Linked DNA regions of Homo sapiens: region 1 is linked to region 2. The links come from fine-mapping of genetic effects on gene expression. A gene starts in region 2. The other region holds a variant in brackets. All regions are shown on one strand. Distances are from middle to middle. Region 1 has its middle 53 kb from the start of BPNT2. Region 2 holds the start of BPNT2 (3'(2'), 5'-bisphosphate nucleotidase 2).

Evidence for each region. PIP is the estimated chance that this variant, and not a neighbour inherited with it, causes the effect. A credible set is the group of variants that fine-mapping cannot tell apart.
Region 1: its variant is the best candidate, but not a certain one, in a credible set for the expression of BPNT2 in pancreas (GTEx, PIP 0.71).

What each region holds. Positions count from the first base shown.
Region 1 is chr8:56,938,575-56,942,973 of GRCh38, reverse strand. No RefSeq gene overlaps it. Among named protein-coding and RNA genes, the nearest start is that of BPNT2, 53 kb to the left of the region's middle. The variant C/T (reference allele first, on the strand shown) is at 2,261.
Region 2 is chr8:56,991,242-56,995,640 of GRCh38, reverse strand. BPNT2 (3'(2'), 5'-bisphosphate nucleotidase 2) reads left to right here and starts at 1,774. Exons shown (of 5, transcript NM_017813.5): 1 at 1,774-2,442. The coding sequence starts at 2,056. RefSeq lists a silencer at 1,658-2,217.

The DNA.
Region 1 (4,399 bases), 53 kb after region 2:
CTACTCTGATTCCACACCCTGAAGATCAGTTCTAACATATATTCCTCAGGTTTATGTCAATATAAGTTGGAAAATCATGCAGTTATTTTGGTGTTCATTGCATCTCATTACAGGCCACATTTTGAGTCTCACCCTCTGAGGCCCTCAGGGACCTGTGGTGGGAGTATGTCCTGGAGAGCACCAGCAGCCCTTTGTAAAGCAGCCAAGTGAAAGTTATTAGAGTTCTTCAGGCAGCAGCAGTAGAAGTGCAAAGAAGGCTTGGTGGAATTTGGGGGTACAAGGTCTCCAGATTTATCAGAATCTGTCCATATGACCCAATCCCAATTTTTAGAATCTCATTCCTTCCCAATCATTGCCCTAATTTTAACAAAATAGACCATGCAAGTTTGAGTATTCAGTTTGCCTTGTAATTCACCCACCAGCAAGATAAACTTTGAATTCGTTTTTCAGAATCTCAGTTCTGTAGTCACAGGAGATAAGAATTTTTTTTAAGTTTTTTATTTATTTTAGAGACAAGACCTTGCCCTGTCACCCAAGCTGGAGAACAGTGGCACAATCATAGCTCACTTTAACCTCAAACTCTTGGGTTCAAGTGATCCTCCCACCTCAGCCTCCCAAGTAGCTAGGACTACAAGTACGTGCCACCACACTTGGATAATTTTAAAAAAATGTTGTAGAGACAGATTCTCACTATGTTGCCCAGGCTGGTCTTGAGCACTTGGCCTCAAGTAATTCTCCCACCTCAGCCTCCCAAAGTGCTGGCATTACAGGCGTGAGTCACTGCCCCTGGCCCGTATTGTTTTTAAGGCAGTCATAGGAGCTTTTCAGGTCCTTATGCAGATATTAACCTGGGAATTTAAAGCCCTGAACTCATTTTTTTCCCCCTAAGTTCTACAGCACATTTAGAAGAAACCAACCTACTCCATTTTACTCTGCATTTTGCTAAAATGTTCTAGAGTAGTAAATACTTTGTCCCCAAGAGACTTCTCTTCTATGGGTAAATGTAGTTAAAAATTTGCATGACTTTTGCAACTGATTGCCATGTTCTGCCCCTTTGCCGCTGGAAACAGGGTCATTAATGCCTTCAAGTCTAATCAAATTGAAAACCAACTCCATATTCAATTCAAAGAACTTGTCCTTAAGATGTTGTCCATCTGAAACTCTTTCTTGGTGCCAAATTCTGTATCAATTCAAATTCAATCAGAAAAGCAAAACCACTAGGAATATATATTATGTACATTTATATAAAAGTATATATAAAAGGACGGGCAAGGTGGCTCATGCCTGTAATCCCAGCACTTTGGGAGGCCGAGGTGGGCAGATTGCCTGAGGTCAGGAGTTTGAGACCAGCCTGGCCAACATGGTGAAACCCCATCTCTTTAGTAGATATATTTTTAGTAAATATAAAAATTAGCCAGGCGTGGTGGCAGGCACCTGTAATCCCAGGTACTTGGGAGGTTGAGGCAGGAGAATCGCTAACCTGGGAGGTGGAGGGTCACAGTGAGCCAAGATAGCGCCATTGGACTCCAGCCTGGGCAACAGGAACGATACTTCATCTCAAAAAAAAAAAAAATTATATATACAATAAGGAACTTGTTAAAAGGATTTGACCTCATGTAATTGTGGTTGTTCTTTAAACAGTCTCTCTAAAGTTGCTGTCTTGTGCTGATGCTGAGTAGCAGGGTCAAGCCCTATCTAAGTCACAGCATCAAAAATTGTGAAAATCAACACTACCATTAGCATAGGGCTTTCTTCAAAAATCCCAGGGACTAGAAGGCCCTGAGAGAGCGGTCTAACTAAGGGAACAAGAGTGAAATGTTTTACAAGACTTGGGCAAGAGGCATTTTGTGAAAGTTTAACTAGTTTAACTTGGATGATTCTCTGAGAAGGAAGGGATTGTTCTGTGGATGTGCAGCCACTGTTTGGGCAATTTGGATTTTATTGGTCAGTGTAAATCAAAGACAGTGGTGAGTCTCAATCATTTTAAAAGGCTTATTCGCCAAGGTTAAGGATGCACCTGGGAAAAAGACATGGAACCATACGAAAAACTGTGGTTCATGCTTTTTCCAAAGAGGGTCTGGGACCTCAATATTTTAAGAGAAAAGGGCATATATTGGGAAAAGAGTAAAAAAAGTTTATAAGGGTGTGGGTAGATAAGAGGCAAGCAGTTGCATTCTTTTGAGTCTTTGATCACCATTTATTGAATACACATCTTACATGTGAGAAAGAAGTACAGAAATAGTCACTTATGCATTTTTCT[C/T]GCTCAGTGAAACTGCATTTTTATGTAAGATAAAATAAACATAGGGCAGAGGAAGCAATACATTTGTCTCAGGTGAGCAGAGGGATGACTTTAAGTTCTGTCCTTTGTTCCATGCTTGTGAAGATAAATAAGCTATCAACTTACATTGTCAGGATGAAATTCAACAAAGCTGTTTTAGGGTAAAGATCTTGGAGCCCATTGTGGGCACATGGTGAGGGAGGTATGTAGCTCTTTTATCTCTGTACCTATCTTATTTAAGAAAAAAAGGAGAGGCAGCTTTGTGTGACTCCGTTCCCAGCTTGACTTTTCACTTTGGCTTAGTGAGCCTGGGGCCCCAAGATTTATTTTCCTTTCACACCAGCTACAGGAACAAGGACATGCAAGGGCCACAGTGAAAAACTCTTGTCTCTCCACCATGTTCTCAGGCAGTGGGAAGCCCTTTTCTCCTCCCCTAGAAATGGTAGGGATGCATGTTACTCTTCTTTATATTCTCAGTGACCAGCATGGTACCTGACACAGAGGGGTGCTCCATAAATATTTATTGACTTAAAATAACCTGAAGAGAGAAGAGGAAGGTGCTGGAGAAAAAGATAAACAATTGTAGAGTAAGATCATAAAGAAGTGGAAGTAGTTTTAAAAGCACAGATGGGCTGACTCAGGAAAGGAGAAGAAATCTTATTCTCTGAGACAAGGAAGGAAGAATTTGTGTAAGAATAAAAGTATTTAATAAAAGTATTTATAAGGAAAGCTCTCACACCTGTAATCCCAGCACTTTGGGAGGCCAAGGCGGGCGGATCACCTGAGGTTGGGAGTTCAAGACCAGCCTGACCAATATGGAGAAACCCCATCTCTACTAAAACTACAAAAAATTAGCTGGGTGTGGTGGTGCATGCCTGTAATTCCGGCTACTTGGGAGGCTGAGGTAGGAGAATCGCTTGAACCCGGGAGGCGGAGGTGACCCAAGATCATGCCAATTGCACTCCAGTCTGGGTGACAGAGCGAGACTGTCTCAAAAAAAAAAAAAAAAAAAAAAAAGGGAAAGCTAAGTGGGAGTTATTTAACAGCCTTGGCATTTGTATTTCTTGGAGAATTGGGAGTAAGATGAAAAATTTTAGGGACAATGGTAACAATGCTATTTTCTTTTTATTTTTTAATTATACTTTAAGTTCTAGGGTACATGTGCACAACGTGCAGGTTTGATACATAGGTATACATGTGCCATGTTGGTTTGCTGCATCCATCAACTTGACATTTATGTTAGGTATTTCTCCTAATGCTATCCCTCCTCGAAGTCCCCACCCACCAACAGGCCCCAGTGTGTGATGTTCCCCGCCTTGTGTCCATGTGTTCTCGTTGTTCATCTCCCACCTATGAGTGAGAATATGCAGTGTTTGGTTGTCTGTCCTTGTGATAGTTTGCTCAGAATGATGGTTTCCAGCTTCATCCATGTCCCTGCAAAGGACATGAACTCATCATTTTTTAAGGCTGCATAGTATTCCATGGTATATATGTGCCACATTTTCTTAATCCAGTCTATCATTGATGGACATTTGGGTTGGTTCCAAGTCTTTGCTATTGTGAATAGTGCTGCAATAAACATATGTGTGCATGTGTCTTTATAGTAGCGTAGATTTATAATCTATATTTGGGTTATATACCCAGTAATGAGATCGCTGGGTCAAATGGTATTTCTAGTTCTAGATCCTTAAGGAATCGCCACACCATCTTCCACAATGGTTGAACTAATTTACACTCCTGCCAACAGTGTAAAAGCGTTCCTATTTCTCCACATCCTCTCCAGCATCTGTTGTTTCCAGACTTTTTAATGATTGCTATTCTAACTGGTGTGAGATGGTATCTCATTGTGGTTTTGATTGGCATTTCTTTGATGACCAGTGATGATGAGCATTTTTTCGCATGTCTGTTGACTGCATAAATGTCTTCTTCTGAGAAGTATATTTCTTGGAGGCTTTGTTCATTTCTTTTCACTCTTTTTTCTCTAATCTTGTCTTCTCGCTTTATTTCATTAATTTGATCTTCAGTCAGTGATATCCTTTCTTCCACTTGATTGAATTGTCTATTGAAGCTTGTGCATGCGTCACAAATTTCTCGTGCTTTGTCTGTCAGCTCCATCAGGTC
Region 2 (4,399 bases):
ATCTGTTAATACCCATTCTCTATGATCAATTATCACTTGAGTGCTAGAACGCCTCTTGGAGCTACAATCTTTCAAGTGACTCCTTCTTTCCACATACCTTGGCATTTTCTCCCTCAAGTCTTAAATCCCTTTTTTGCAGTAGAAATGCTCCAGAGCTTTTAGTATTTCCCTCAGTGGTATACTGTGTATACTGCCACACTGAATGTGACCCTATATTATTCTCCAATATCCTTGGAAAATATTATTCCGTTTATTTTGAGAAATCTCAGACTTCCCAATGATGCTTTTAATATTGACATGATTACTATCCAACTCATCTTTTTGCTGCTGTCATAGTGTAGGTTGGGGTGGTTCTGTTTAACTTAAACCTTTATATTTCAACCCTGATGTTTATCTTTATCCCTGGGATGGGTTTTGAGAATTACTCTGTGACATTCACTTTTAGATATTTGAAAGCAGCTTTGCTTCATTGCAAAGTTACTCTCAAAAGCTGACAAGAAAGGCAATGCTAGTTCTTTAAGTTCTGGTGCTGTCAATACTCTAGGGATTGTTCTTTCACTGATTTGTATTTGTACTTGATTTTGTGCTGTGATTCTGGCAGGGAAATCACAGTGCTTTTGTTGTATGTGTATAATCTGGCAGTGCTTTTGTTGTATGTGTATAATCACATGCAAATTCTAGGGATGCCCTGAACTCTAAGTAAGCGGTAAAGGTCAGGCTCTACATGACTTGCTTAGCAATGGATGTTTAGAAGTTTGGTATACTTGCAGTTTTTCAGGTGGTTAATTCTAAAGTCCACTTAAAACCAATGCTGTTTTGCTATGAACAGTAAAACAGGCTACATTTTAAGTTGATTTATATAGATATTTTAACATTTAAGAACAATACTATACATCTTAATATTCACTTTTAAGATTAAAGATAAACTCATGAATACTTATAAAGTATTCACTATCATTCTAGCTAAGATCGGTGTTATAGTAGAAGGTAGTTATTTCTGTCAAAATACTTCGAGAGCCTACGCTGACTCAAAGATTACATGTTCTAGACTGACCATCTCCGGATAACCTCTATTTTAAGTGGACTCTGTCAAGCAATTCCTCTTCTTAAGCTCTGGTAGGAGAGCCAGGCTCGAGTACCCTTGGAAATGAGAGAAGCCTGGTTTGCTTTCTTTCATTATGAAAAACCCGGATCAAGGCATGTTTTTCAGCTGCTTCGAGGATGGTTTATTCTGGCAGGTGGAGGAGAGAAACTCTATACACACATAAGCATTTAGGGCACGACAAAGATGTCAACAGAATGAAGAGCCAAGTACAATTCTTCCCCTCACCGCCCAGTTCCCCGTCCTGCCGGGAAGAGCGCGGAGAAGCGACTTAAAGGTACAGGCTGTCTACACCCCCGCTGGCTAAAAAAGCTTGCAAATCAATCTTTTAAAATGGTTTATTGTGTTTTCCTCCATTCCTCAATAATCTGAGAGTGATGAGAAGACTAGACTGTTACTGTGGGTTTATTACAGCCAGCCATAGTCGTACAATGGGATATTTAATTTAAACACCCACAAGGCACTCAGCACAGCACACTGTCCTGTGCGGATTGCTGCTCGCCACTTCCAGGAATACCTTCCCACCCAGACCAAGGAAGGCAGCTCAGTCCAGCGCCTCCTGTCCCGCCCCGCCCCGCCCCAAGGGGAGGTGCCCAGCTCTCCCCGCCCCTCGCCCTCGCCCTCGCCCCGCCCCGTCGCGTAACCCGGATACACACCCACGCTCCCCTTTCACCTCGCGGCCGTAGGCTAACGTGGAAGTCGGACCAGCCGGCCGGCGGAAGAACCTAGAGCGCGCTGCCTGGCGAGTCAGGCGCGCGGGGCGGCGTTGGTGGTCTTCGCGGCGCAACTCGGCCTTTCCTGGGAGGGAGTGATGGGGCGCACCGGGGCCGGGGAGCGGGCGCCAGTGTAGCCCGCGCGGCGCCTGGCCCGGAGCGCGGCGGCTGCGGCGGCGGCGGCGGCGGGCGCTGGAGGCCTGTGAGAGCCGCAGCCCGGAGCGCCCGGCTTCCCACGCCATGGCCCCCATGGGCATCCGCCTTTCCCCACTGGGGGTGGCAGTGTTTTGCCTGCTGGGGCTCGGCGTGCTCTACCACCTCTACTCGGGCTTCTTGGCCGGCCGCTTCAGCCTCTTCGGCCTGGGCGGCGAGCCTGGCGGCGGCGCGGCGGGGCCCGCGGCCGCGGCCGATGGGGGCACCGTGGACTTGCGCGAGATGCTGGCTGTGTCAGTGCTGGCCGCAGTCCGCGGCGGCGACGAGGTGAGGCGCGTCCGCGAGAGCAACGTCCTCCACGAGAAGTCCAAGGGGAAGACGCGCGAGGGAGCCGAGGACAAGATGACCAGCGGCGACGTGCTGTCCAACCGCAAGATGTTCTACCTGCTCAAGACCGCCTTCCCCAGCGTCCAGGTGGGAGCCCACGGGCGGAGCGCCCACTCGAGCCGGGTAGCGCGTCTCGGCCCGTCGACTCTTAACAGTATGGGATGTGGAGCTTCTGGTTCCATTTTGTAGATGTGGAAATTGAGACGCAGAAGTTAACGTGCACAAGGTCAGACAGACAGCAGAGGAGCTGGGTGAGGTTGCACGTAGTCTGACTCAGGGCCCGTGCCCTTTTGGCTCGTCCTGGGTCGGGTGTGCGCCGTGTGTACCTGGGATCAGAAGGCCTTGAAACGAAAAGGCTGACAAAGTTAATTGCACCCGCAGCTTCAGGCTCCTCTGTAGAATTAAGGGGTTGGCTAAAATCCACCAAGACTCTCTATCCTTCCTTGATTTCATCCCTAGAAGGGTCGAAACTGGAGTACACATTTTCTGGGTGGCCTGCCAGTAGCCAGCTGAAAGACCGAGTCTTGTTGCAGAGCTGTTAGTGTGCGGGGCATTTGTGTGTGCGTGTGTGCGCTCGCGGGAGTCGGGGTGGGGGGGTGGGGGATGAGTATGCTCATTTCGCTGTCTTTTTGTCAGGACGCTCTAAAGTTTATAGTTTGCGGGCCCTTTAAGGAGGTACTTAGAAATATACCAGCTGTTGGTCCTACCTGGCCCTTGATTAAAGATCCATATTTACTCCAGAGAATAAGAATTAAATAACATTTGGCTTTTCTTTGGGTAGGTTTCTGGGAAGGGAGTTGACATTTTCTTAAGGAAATCCAGACATTTTGGATTTGTTATTAATACTTTTTGAATTCATCATTTCACTGGAGCTGCTATTGAGTTGAATAAAGCATATTTAAAATTTGCAGTTCCAGAAACTGCAAATTTTGTTGAGGAAGAGCTCAGCATAGCGTAGCAGCACCTTATTAACGTATATCTTAACTCACCTAACTGTAGTTTTGGCTACTGGGAAGAAAAATTGTCTTCACTGGAATTTTATTAGATAAACAGTGATGTGCAAACCCAGGCTTCTTTGGAAGGTGACTGACCTTTTACTGCTGATCTTGAAAGAGTTAGGAGAATATTGTCATTGTTTAGTTATGTATTTTGCATAAGGCTTCTTCCAGTCTATCATAATATTGCTTTGGTTTTGTTTTTTATTCTCCTCTCTTCCTCCCTTTTCTTTCGTCTTTTTCTTTTTCCAGTGGAAAGGAACATTGTATTTCCTAACATGAGCTACTGGATACCAGATGTAATTAACGTTAGAATTTTTTTTTTCAAATTTCTACTTAAAACACAGAATATTTCCACTTTTTCTTCTTCCCTACTCTGTTTTTATCATCACAAATAATACTTAAATTTTTTTGCATCTAGATGTAAGGTGTGTTTATGAAATATTTTACCCCCTTTCCAAAACATACGTGTTTCCTTCCCCAAGAATTTATAGAGGAAACAGGAGATTCAGAGAAGTTGCTATTTAATGGTTATAACAGTACTAATAATAACCATTTATTGAATATATTTTACATGCCCAAATACTGGCTACACAGGACTTCATTTGATCCTTAACAGCAACTTTAAGAAGTAAATTTTATTTCTGCCTACTATACAAACGGGAAATCTGAGGCTCGTGACACTCCAGCTTATATGAACTATCCCACATTTTAGCTAGATTTTTAGAAGGCTATTTAAAACTTATAATTGTAGAAGCTTAAAAGCAGTAATAGTGAAATACAGCAAGCAGAGTTGATTTTTCTTTTTTTAAGTAAAAACAAAAGTATCTTAAATGTTGAAAACACATCTGTATGTGTGTGCATTCTCATTTATTAGCAAACAATAAGGGAATGGCTGCCAAGGGCAGTGAGCTGCATTTTATTAACATAAAAGCTAAGCTTTTGGAATTGCAGATGTTGAAGTCTCTGGCTTAATATAAAACAACTTCTTGTTTTCTTGTGACTATTTGAATGTTTGCATGTGCTTCTGTAGTATTCATGTTGGGTCA